2 separate regions of the Homo sapiens genome follow, and region 2 is linked to region 1. Evidence: fine-mapped expression QTL. Tissue or cell type: thyroid. Region 1 holds a variant in brackets; the other region holds the start of a gene. All regions are shown on one strand. Distances are between the middles of the regions. Region 1 holds the start of LOC124904606 (a long non-coding RNA gene). Region 2 holds the start of C2CD4C (C2 calcium dependent domain containing 4C).

Region 1 (5,365 bases):
AAAATAAAGAAATACATAAATACTGAAATTTTTAGGGGTGGAGGTGCATGACATCTACAACTTAGCTTCAAATGTTCAGGAAAAAACCGACAGGAGGATAACACAGGGCGGCAGGTCGTTCACAGCGGGTGACCAGGTGAAGGACACACAGAGTTCTTACTGGGACCTTAAAGCCAATTTGACCTGTGAAGGGGTGGGTTGCCCCTCCATACCTGTGGGTGTTTCTCGTTAGGTGGAACAAGAGACTTGGAAAAGAAAAAGACACAGAGACAAAGTATAGAGAAAGAAATAAGGGGACCCGGGGAACCAGCGTTCAGCATATGGAGGATCCCGCCAGCCTCTGAGTTCCCTTAGTATTTATTGATCATTCGTGCGTGTTTCTTGAAGAGGGGGATGTGTCAGGGTCACAAGACAATAGTGGGGAGAGGGTCAGCAGACAAACACGTGAACAAAGGTCTTTGCATCATAGACAAGGTAAAGGATTAAGTGCTGTGCTTTTAGATATGCATCCACATAAACATCTCAATGCTTTACAAAGCAGTATTGCTGCCCGCAGGTCCCACCTCCAGCCCTAAGGCGGTTTTTCCCTATCTCAGTAGATGGAACGTACAATCGGGTTTTATACCGAGACATTCCATTGCCCAGGGAGGGGCAGGAGACAGATGCCTTCCTCTTGTCTCAACTGCAAGAGGCATTCCTTCCTTTTACTAATCCTCCTCAGCACAGACCCTTTACGGGTGTCGGGCTGGGGGACGGTCAGGTCTTTCCGTTCCCACGAGGCCATATTTCAGACTGTCACATGGGGAGAAACCTTGGACAATACCTGGCTTTCCTAGGCAGAGGACCCTGCGGCCTTCCGCAGTGTTTGTGTCCCTGGGTACTTGAGGTTAGGGAGTGGTGATGACTCTTAACGAGCATGCTGCCTTCAAGCATCTGTTTAACAAAGCACGTCTCGCACCGCCCTTAATCCATTCAACCCTGAGTGGACACAGCACATGTTTCAGAGAGCACGGGGTTGGGGGTGGGGTCACCGAATCTCAAGGCAGAAGAATTTTTCTTAGTACAGAACAAAATGGAGTCTCCCATGTCTACTTCTTTCTACACAGACACAGTAACAATCTGATCTCTCTTGCTTTTCCCCACATTTCCCCCTTTTCTTTTCGACAAAACCGCCATCGTCATCATGGCCCGTTCTCGATGGTCGCTGTCTCTTCGGAGCTGTTGGGTACACCTGCAGACTAACAACAGACAAAACAGGCACACAAGGATTAATATGAGATTTATAATCATAGAACTTCCGATGGTCGTAACCCAAGCGACAGGGTTAAGATTTGCGAGGCCATCAGCCACTCCTGCGATTGCCTCCATTCCTGGCACCAAATTTAAATGGGCTTTTGATGCTTCGAAAATTTGTTCTTTCAATTTGGAAATGTCTAAAGTGAGATTATCTTCTCTTCCCTGTAGATGGCGTCTAACTATGTCCTAGTGATGCTCAGACTCATTATAAATTTGGGGTGTAATACAAAAGTCTGACGTATTCCAGTCACACTGTAACTGGAAATAATGTTCTAAGCTCATGAGCCTGTCTCCCATCCAAATGACAGGTTGTCTAAGATCATTATTTGATTTGCCAATTTTTGATCAATACTAGATTGTGAATTCCATAATCTTGTAGAATTTTTTTGCCAATCATTAAAAGTTTACCGACTGAACAGAAGAGTGCAATGCAACTCCTGCTACAGCAGCCGTAGCTGTGACTGCAATTAATCCCATAATCACTGCAATTAAAGTAAAAATGAATCTTTTGGATCTATTTAAAACGCCTTTTAATACTTCAGTCAAAATACGGACGGATGGCAAGGCCTCCTGCGGTCAGTCCGTGGACACGGGGACCCACACGCCCTCTCTTGCCCTCCCCAGCAGAATACGGTGTTGCCAATTAAAAGTCAAATCAATGCAAGTAAACAATCTGCAGTTTTCACAGGTTATAGTTTGAGAGTCTGGTTTAATAACTATATTTCCTACAACTAGCATATAAGGGGGGGCTTTACGCAACTTTGTAAAGGAACCGTTGGACTGGAATTTAGGTGGATAGTATAAAATGGCTTACAATCTCTTGTTTCTAAAGTTTGATTTCCAGACCAAATTCTAATGTGGTGTGAGGCCACAGTAAGCCTCCATAATTCTGGATGTTCAGGACCAGAAACAGGACTTATTATTTTTGGTCTTGGGGTAGAGATTCCTTTTTCTCCCCATACCCAAGGGTAGAAAGACTGTAATTTTTTATGCTTATGTTTGTCTAGAGTTTCTGTTAAGTCGCTATCAACAGCTGGACTCACTTGTGCACTTGGACACGACCGAGTTTGTCCTGAGCAACTGTGGTAGAATTGACTCGAGGTGCCCAATCTATAATAGTTCCGAATTCATTGTTTTGTAATATCACCGCACTATTGGCCACACATTCTTTCCAAACTAAAACTTCTGTATTTTTTGATCCTTTGGGAATTTCCTTGGGGCAAGGTTTCCCTATAGGTCTAAATTTTAATGATCTTTGATAAGAAAAGTCTTGTAAATAATTTACCCGTGGCCTGAGTGACATCCCGCTTACCATGTGATAAGTGAATCTACTGATGGGACTGACAGTAGGTACTTCCACCAACCAATTTTGGACTG[T/C]AGGCATTAAACATCCTGGTGCTTTCCCTAGGCAAATAGGAGGATAACGATAACTATGTTTGCCGACGTGACCTCAGTGACACAAAGAAACCTTCTGCCCCCACCTCCCTCCCAGTCACAGCTCACCAGGCGCCTTCTGCCCCCACCTCCCTCCCAGTCACAGCTCACCAGGCGCCTTCTGCCCCCACCTCCCTCCCGGTCACAGCTCACCAGGCGCCTTCTGCCCCCACCTCCCTCTCAGTCACAGCTCACCAGGCGCCTTCTGCCCCCACCTCCCTCCCACTTCATCAGTTCCAGGGAGCTTTCTTTCAAAATGATACTACTTTTCTTGAAAGTTCGCAATTATTTCAAAACAACAACACAAACAAAGCCAGAAAGGCATGCAAACAAACAGCAGTGAGAACAAAACAAGGTTACTAACCAGCTCCTATGCTCTGCCCCAGGCTTGGGCCTGCTCTCTCTCTGTAAAAACCATTGACAATGCTGGGGACAGTTGAACTTTCATTTGCACCAAGCTGCGACTTTCCCCTTGGGGTAGCCAGGACTGGCCCTGAAGGAAAAGGGAAGTAATTTCTCATCACAGTATTTGGTGTTCTGTAGTCTGGGCCTTGTGTTGCTGGCGGCACCTGGAGGGCACCGCTCCGAGCCCCTCCTCTGGGAAACAGGCTGTGAATTGTGGATGACACCGCGGGTCACTGTGCGAGGGAAGAGCACGGTTGTGCCTGTACCCAGGGGAAAGCCCGGCCCCACCCGTCACCCTCGTCCAGTGACATCTGTGGGATTTCTCCTCAGCCACGACCAAGGCTGTTCTGTTCCCACCCAACACTGCGAGAGCAGGCCCGGAGGGAGGTGGCAGCGAATGATCTAGGTTCTGCGGGAGCTGACGTGGGTTCGCGCCCGGTGCAATCCCGGGCCAATGCACTGCCTCTCTGAGCTCGTTTTCTCCTTGGTGAAACGAGGGTGGTAATGGGGAAAGCCGCCCTCGCAGGACAGGCTGTGGGGACGATTCGGTTCGGGAGCCCTCGGTCCAGGGTTAATCCTGGCGAGGGGAGACCAACTGCCCTTGACTGCGGCGGCAGCTGGTGGTCGCCTGTGGTATTGCTGCCTCCTCGCCGGGGGCCGCGGGCCGTCACTCACTCTCGAGGCTTCCTGGAATTCTCTTCTGCACTTTGGGAGGCCGAGGCGGGCGGATCACTTGAGGACGGGAGTTCGAGACCAGCCTGACCAACACGGAGAAACCCCAACTCTACTAAAAATACAATTAGCCAGGCGTGGTGGCGCGCGCCTGTAATCCCAGCTACTCCGGAGGCTGAAGTAGGAGAAATGCTTGAACCCAAGAGGCGGAGGTTGCGGCGAGCCGAGGTCGCACCACTGCACTCCAGCCTGGGCAACACGAGCGAAACTCCATCTCAAAAGAAAGAAAGAAAGAAAGAAGTTCTGTTCTGAATGCTGCTGGAAGTCCAGGCATGAACAAGATAAATCACAGTCTCCACCCTATTGGAGCACATATGCTAATGAGATAAAAAGACAATAAATATGTAAAAAGTCAACACAAAGCAAGATCATGATACATGCAACTAAGCAAACAAACTCCCCATAGATTTAGGTAGAAAAATGAGGGGGCCCTACTTTAGACGAGGTGATTGGGGAAGGCTTTTTGGAGGAGGTGATATTTAAGGAGAATCTGGAAGGAGTCATGCCCCTGAATTGGGAGGGGGTTACTGAGCCCCGAACTGAGCTGGCGTGTGCAGCAGAAAGGCCCGCGTGGCTATGAGAGCAGGCCTGAGAGAGGGACAGGGGAGGGGACTAGCCTGGCGGGCCTGGGGAGGGAGCCAGGCAGCAGGGGGTCTCCATCCTGAAGTAGAAGTGCTGGGGGCCCACACCCCCGACTTGGGTGGCTCTGACCACTGGGAACAGGAGAAGGGTGTGCTTCCGTTGTGCGTTGCTGCATGACACGCAGCCCGGCCAGCAGTTGACGGCGGGCATTCGTCACTCTTCGTGATTCTGCGTTCTGCGCTAGGACATGACCTCACTAGGCAACAGGAACTTTCCAGCTCCGTCACAATCTTACACAGCTGTTGTGGACCGAAACGAGGTATGCTGCTGAAGCTGTAATAGGTGCTCAGCAGAATCAGCCATGCCTTCCCTCTGTAGGCTTAATCTGGAGTTGTTTCAAAACGAATCTGCCATTTTAGAGACTGGCGAGAGTGAATTTGAATGCGACTTCTTCCCCTTTCTCCTCTCTCTCCTCCCTCCGTTTTCTTTTGCAAGGACCTTAGGGGCATAAAATTAGGTGAACCATAATTATTTCCATCCACCCATTCATTTACCCATTCACGATTCAACCATGAGCTCATTACCCAACTGGAGAATAGGAATGTGATCAACCACTTCCTGCCACAGCCCCAGCAACAGCAACACCTAATACATCTGCTTATGAATCACCACGGTTCTGCTCCACCTCCTACATCAGCTCATCACCACGGTTCTGCCCCACCTCCTACATCTGCTCATCACCACGGTTCTGCTCCACCTCCTACATCTGCTCATCACCACGGTTCTGCTCCACCTCCTACATCTGCTCATCAATCACCACGGTTCTGCTCCACCTCCTACATCTGCTCATCACCACGATTCTGCTCCACCTCCTACATCTGCTCATCACCACGGTTCTGCTCCACCTCCTACATCT
Region 2 (5,365 bases), 24 kb before region 1:
CCAGCTCTGGATTTGTGTCCTAGCATGGAGACAGGCATAGTGTAAACTCAGTGCCTCATCCCCCAACCCAGCTGGCAGGAGAGGCTCTGCCCCCACCTGGGCTGGGCAGGGGTGCCGGAGAGCGAACCCCCAATACCTGGGGCTGGCCTGATGTCAGGAGACCCGTCACTGCCCCTTCCTAGGACCCAAGCTGTCCGCTTCCCTCCCCAGGCCCTGCTGTCCTTGTCTGCAATGGAGGAGGGTGGCTCTGTGGCCCCTGAGGCCCCCTCTCCTCGGGCCTGCTGAAAGAGCACTGTTTCGGGGCCATCGTGGCGATGCTATTCACCCATTTGTTTGGCAAATGTTTACTGGAGACATGGCTGGCCTGTGCCTTGGGGCCACTACAGGGACAGGACCTCCAGGACCCTCCTCCCGGCTCGGGCCCAGCAGAGACGGTGGACAGACCCCCAGGATCCGGGCCCAGCAGAGACGGTGGACAGACCCCCAGGATCCGGGCCCAGCAGGGGCGGTGGACAGACCCCCAGGATCCGGGCCCAGCAGAGACGGTGGACAGACCCCCAGGATCCGGGCCCAGCAGGGGCGGTGGACAGACCCCCAGGATCCGGGCCCAGCAGGGGCGGTGGACAGACCCCCAGGATCCGGGCCCAGCAGGGGCGGTGGACAGACCCCCAGGATCCGTGCCCAGCAGGGGCGGTGGACAGACCCCCAGGATCCGGGCCCAGCAGGGGCGGTGGACAGACCCCCAGGATCCGGGCCCAGCAGGGGCGGTGGACAGACCCCCAGGATCCGGGCCCAGCAGGGGCGGTGGACAGACCCCCAGGATCCGGGCCCAGCAGGGGCGGTGGACAGACCCCCAGGATCCGGGCCCAGCAGGGGCGGTGGACAGACCCCCAGGATCCGGGCCCAGCAGTGACGGTGGACAGACCCCCAGGATCCGTGCCCAGCAGGGGCGGTGGACAGATCCCCAGGATCCGGGCCCAGCAGGGGCAGTGGACAGACCCCCAGGACCCTCCTCCCGCCTCAGGCCCAGCAGGGGTGGTGGACAGCAGCCCAAGGGTATTCTGCATGGCAGCTGGAGCTGGGGTTCGGGGGCCCTGCTAGTCTGTGGTGGGGCCTGCCCAGGCTTCCTGGAGGCGGCGGCGGTGAAGGGGAGAATTCCTCGGTGTCTGCCTCCTTGTCAGACTTCGGGGCTGCGTCGCGGTTGCCCCAGCACAAAAATGAGGGCTCATCAACGTTTGCTGGGTGAGCAAAGCTTAGATGGGGTCACAGCTCCTCCGGGTTTCACTTTCCCCTCTGGACGGCAGGACTCTAACCCCTTATTGCAAGGGTACGTGGAGAGTGGGGAGGCCTCAGCCCAGCTCTCTCGCCCTCCTGGACCCCTCTTCTACCACTGTGGCAGCAGCCGCTCCTCCCAGCTTGGGCCACATCCAGACTTGGGGACATTCCCAGAATGCAGGAGGCTCCTGGACAATCAATAATTCAATAAAGCGCCAGGCGTCCGCCGGCTCCGGGTTGGTCCTGGGGATATGTTATCTTGCTGGCTCCAAGCACGAGGAGGCTGGGAACTGCTCAGCTCGGTTCCAGAAGAGGAAACTGAGGCGGGGAGGGCAGGGAGGGAGGGAGAGAAGGAAGCAGTGAAGGCCGGGGCTGGCAGATCACGAAGCAGCTGGCAGGAGGGGGGTCGGGGCCTCAGGAGGGGGGGACCCTGTGGTCTCAGGAACTGCCAGGAAGCCTGGGTTTGGACCTGGTCTTGCCCCCTATGGGTTTCTCCATCCGTGAATCACACGCATGTGCCTTCTCTCTTCGCCCCGACCCTCACGCTTTCCTGCTGTATTCCTGTTCCGGGCGTCACCACCCCTGCAGTTCTAAGCTGCACCTGTACGCTCTGTGGGCATCCTGCCCCTGCATCACCAGGGCTGGGGCCACCTCCCTCCGTCCCAGCTGTGTCCCCGGTGGCCAGGTCACTGTCCAGCATCAAGCGGGTGCTCAGGAAACGTTTGTCCATGAAATGAAGGAGCCCCCCCCTTCCAGGCTTCTTGTAGGGCTGCTGAGAGGTTGCCCATTTAGTAAGACCTGCTGTCCTAGCTGTTCGGTCCTTGTTTCTGGAAGGAAACCCCCCACCTTCCTCATCTACAGATTGAGAATTGCAGTAGGACCTGCGTACTGGGTTGTGTGAGAGTCAGAGACCCGCCAGGACGCTGGGAGGCTGGCAGGGAGGAAACGCTCCATCATAAACCCAGCTGCATTTATTACTGTTGCCGTCATTTAATTCGTCGTCGTTAGTCGGGAAAGCTCCTCGCCGGCAGCGAGTAGGGGGTCTGGGACCCTCTTCCGGTATACGGAGGCAGGGGCTTGGGAGTCCGACTTCCCGGAATCTGCGGGCGTGAGCGCCGGGGGTGGCCGTCAGCCAACCGTGACCACCTGCTTGTCTCCCACCGGCCCCCAGTCAGCCCCCGGGCCCTGGCGAGGCTCCTCCCTGCCACCAGCCTCCGGGGGCTGCGGGGAGACGGCCCCACCCCCTTCCCGCGGGGGCGGGGGCGCGGGCGCGGGCGCGGGCGGCCGTACTCGGAGGAATACGGCGGCGGCGGCGGCGGGGCTGGGCGGTTTCCCGCCGCGGGTGAATGAGTCCGACTGCGCTGCCGCCGCCGCCGCCGCCCGCATCGAAGCTCCGGCCGCGTCCCCCGCGCCAGCCCCGGGAGCCTGCGCGCCGAGACCCCTGCGTGTCTGCGAACAGACCTCCGGCCTCGGGCCATCACCCCGGGCAGGTAAGTCCGGGGACCCCGCCCGGTCTGCGGGGACCGCCGGGACCCCACCCCCCACCCCAAGCGGAGTCGGGGAGGGCTGGGGGCGGGGGGACACCGGGGAGTCGACTCGCTGCTCTCTCGGCCCCAGACCTACCGCCCCTCCCTTCCCCCACCCCGAACGCCTGGCCCTCCGGTCCAGGGAGGAGCCACAGGTGGGTGGGAGCCGGGGGGGCGGAGCTGGGACACCCCGGGGGTCCACCCACATCCGTGTCTTCCCCTGGGACTGAGCGCGGAACCCTTTGGAATGAGCGCTGAGATGCTCAAAACCAGAGTGGGGGCGGGCGAGGGGCCAGTCTCCTCTGGGAGCTCCCCGGAGAGTCAGAGCGCGGCCCCCACGCCCCTGGGCTTGGTGCTGGGAAGTTAAGCGGGATCTCTCCGGAAAAAGGTGGGGGGAACCCGCCTCACTCCTGTCCTGGGCCGCCGCGCCTGGGCGGGACGCCCCCAGGGGACCCCTCCACCCCCACCCCGCCGGCAGGGCCCTGCCGGGAGGCCCCACAGGGAGCAGGTGCCCAGGGCCCTCTGCCAGCCGCCCCCCACTGCTCCTGACCCCTGCTTCTCTTCCCAGACGCTGCAGCCCCTGTCCGGGCCTCTTGCCTGCCGCCCCCATGAGAAAAACCAACATGTGGTTCTTGGAGCGGCTTCGGGGGTCTGGGGAAAACGGTGCTGCCCGGGGCGTGGGGAGTGAGGCGGGGGACAAGGCCTCCAAGGGGCCCCTGTACAGCAATGTGTTGACGCCCGACAAGATCCCCGACTTTTTCATCCCCCCCAAGCTGCCCTCGGGCCCCGCGGAGGGCGAGGGACAGGCCGCGCTGGGCCCCTCCACGTCGGAACAGAACCTGGCCTCTGCGGCCCCCCGCCAGACCCCACGGAGCCCCCGGCTGCCTGCCAAGCTGGCAGCCGAGAGCAAGAGCCTGCTGAAGGCAGCCACCCGGCACGTGATCCAGATCGAGAGTGCCGAGGACTGGCTGTCCGAGGAGGCCACTGACGCCGACCCCCAGGCCCAGGGTGCCATGTCCCTGCCCTCGGTGCCCAAGGCCCAGACGTCCTACGGCTTCGCCATGCTGGCTGAGAGCCCCCACACGAGGCGCAAGGAGTCTCTGTTCCACAGTGAGCACGGGGCTCTGGCCCAGGTGGGCTCCCCAGGGGCCGGGCGCCGCCGGGCAGCTGCCAAGGCCAACGGGGGTGATGGGGGCCCCAGGGAGGCTGGCGGGGCCCTCATGAGCCCCGGCCGCTACTTCAGTGGCGGGGAGAGCGACACAGGGTCCTCGGCCGAGTCCTCCCCCTTCGGGTCCCCTCTGCTGTCCCGCTCCGTGTCTCTGCTCAAAGGTTTCGCCCAGGACAGCCAGGCCAAGGTGAGCCAGCTCCGGCACTCCGTGGGCCGCCACGGCTCCCTGTCTGCGGACGACAGCACCCCGGACGCCAGCCCCGGGAGCCGGCGCCGCCTGACCCGCCGGGCACCCCCGGAACCTGGCCCCGAGTCGGGCCAGGCGCGTGGGGAGCACACGGTCCACGTGGGCCCTCGGGGCAGCGTGCGGCTGCTGGCCGAGTACGAGGCCGGCCAGGCCCGCCTGCGGGTGCACCTGCTGGCCGCCGAGGGCCTCTACGACCGCCTGTGCGACGCCCGCAGCATCAACTGCTGCGTGGGCCTGTGCCTGGTGCCGGGCAAGCTGCAGAAGCAGCGCAGCACCATCGTGAAGAACAGCCGCCGCCCCGTCTTCAACGAGGATTTCTTCTTCGACGGCCTGGGGCCCGCCAGCGTCCGGAAACTGGCCCTCAGGATCAAGGTGGTGAACAAGGGCAGCAGCCTCAAGCGGGACACGCTGCTCGGGGAGAAGGAGCTGCCCCTGACCTCCCTGCTCCCCTTCCTGTAGAGCGGGGACCTGCTCGCTGTCCGCTCGGGTGCAGAGGGCAGACCCCGGTCTCTCCTCCACACCGGGTGCTGGCGGGCGGGTCCGCTGGCTTGGGCTGGGGCTGGCCGGGGAGGGGCTCACACTCAGGCTGGGCTGGGCGCTGATGCTGTAGCTGACGCAGGGTTTCCTGGGTCACCCGATGCTGACTGGAGTATTATTTTTCATGAATTAATTTCTCCTTTGGAGGAGGAGGAGGAGGAGGAGAGGGGCCTCGGGGGAAGAGAAGGGGCCACTTCGCGGGGCAGAGGGTCCCCCTTTGCCCCTCCACACTGCCTCGCGCCTTTCACGCAGAGTTCTAGAAGGAGGTTCTCAGGGGTTCAGGAATCCGTGCATGTGGCCAGGGCGGGGCCGTGGACAGGGAGGTGACAAGTCTTGGAGCCCACAGTCTCCTTCACTGCACGTGTGTCTTCCTCCCCCACAGCCTGCCGCCATCCAGTTCCCACCCCGCGGAGAGCAGGGCCTCGCGGCCACACCAGGCCCAGGCTCTGCCCGGGACGCCCCCTCCCAGGGGTCAGGCTTGGCTCTGGGAGACCCCAGCTTCCCAGGCTCCGGTGGGGAGTGGGGCCAGGCGAGGGTGCCCTGACGAGGGTGGGCGCGGAGGGAGCAGCCGCTGCCACAGTCGGAGCAGAGGAGGTCTTGGCAGAGGTCCGC

The links. PIP is the estimated chance that this variant, and not a neighbour inherited with it, causes the effect. A credible set is the group of variants that fine-mapping cannot tell apart.
Region 2: it holds the start of C2CD4C, and the variant in region 1 is the best candidate, but not a certain one, in a credible set for the expression of C2CD4C in thyroid (GTEx, PIP 0.54).

The regions. Positions count from the first base shown.
Region 1 is chr19:382,459-387,823 of GRCh38, reverse strand. It overlaps LOC124904606 (a long non-coding RNA gene), which reads right to left and starts at 5,274. Exons shown (of 3, transcript XR_007067071.1): 1 at 5,243-5,274; 2 at 3,095-5,206; 3 at 1,143-2,700. RefSeq lists enhancers at 73-637, 638-1,203, 3,282-3,401, 2,963-3,489, 3,482-3,681 and 4 more. The variant T/C (reference allele first, on the strand shown) is at 2,674.
Region 2 is chr19:406,406-411,770 of GRCh38, reverse strand. C2CD4C (C2 calcium dependent domain containing 4C) reads left to right here and starts at 2,624. Exons shown (of 2, transcript NM_001136263.2): 1 at 2,624-2,765; 2 at 3,370-5,365. The coding sequence starts at 3,410. The coding sequence ends at 4,675. It overlaps LOC124904607 (proline-rich proteoglycan 2-like), which reads left to right. Exons shown (of 2, transcript XM_047439790.1): 2 at 211-2,249. The coding sequence starts at 315. The coding sequence ends at 1,478. RefSeq lists enhancers at 3,881-4,761, 4,762-5,365.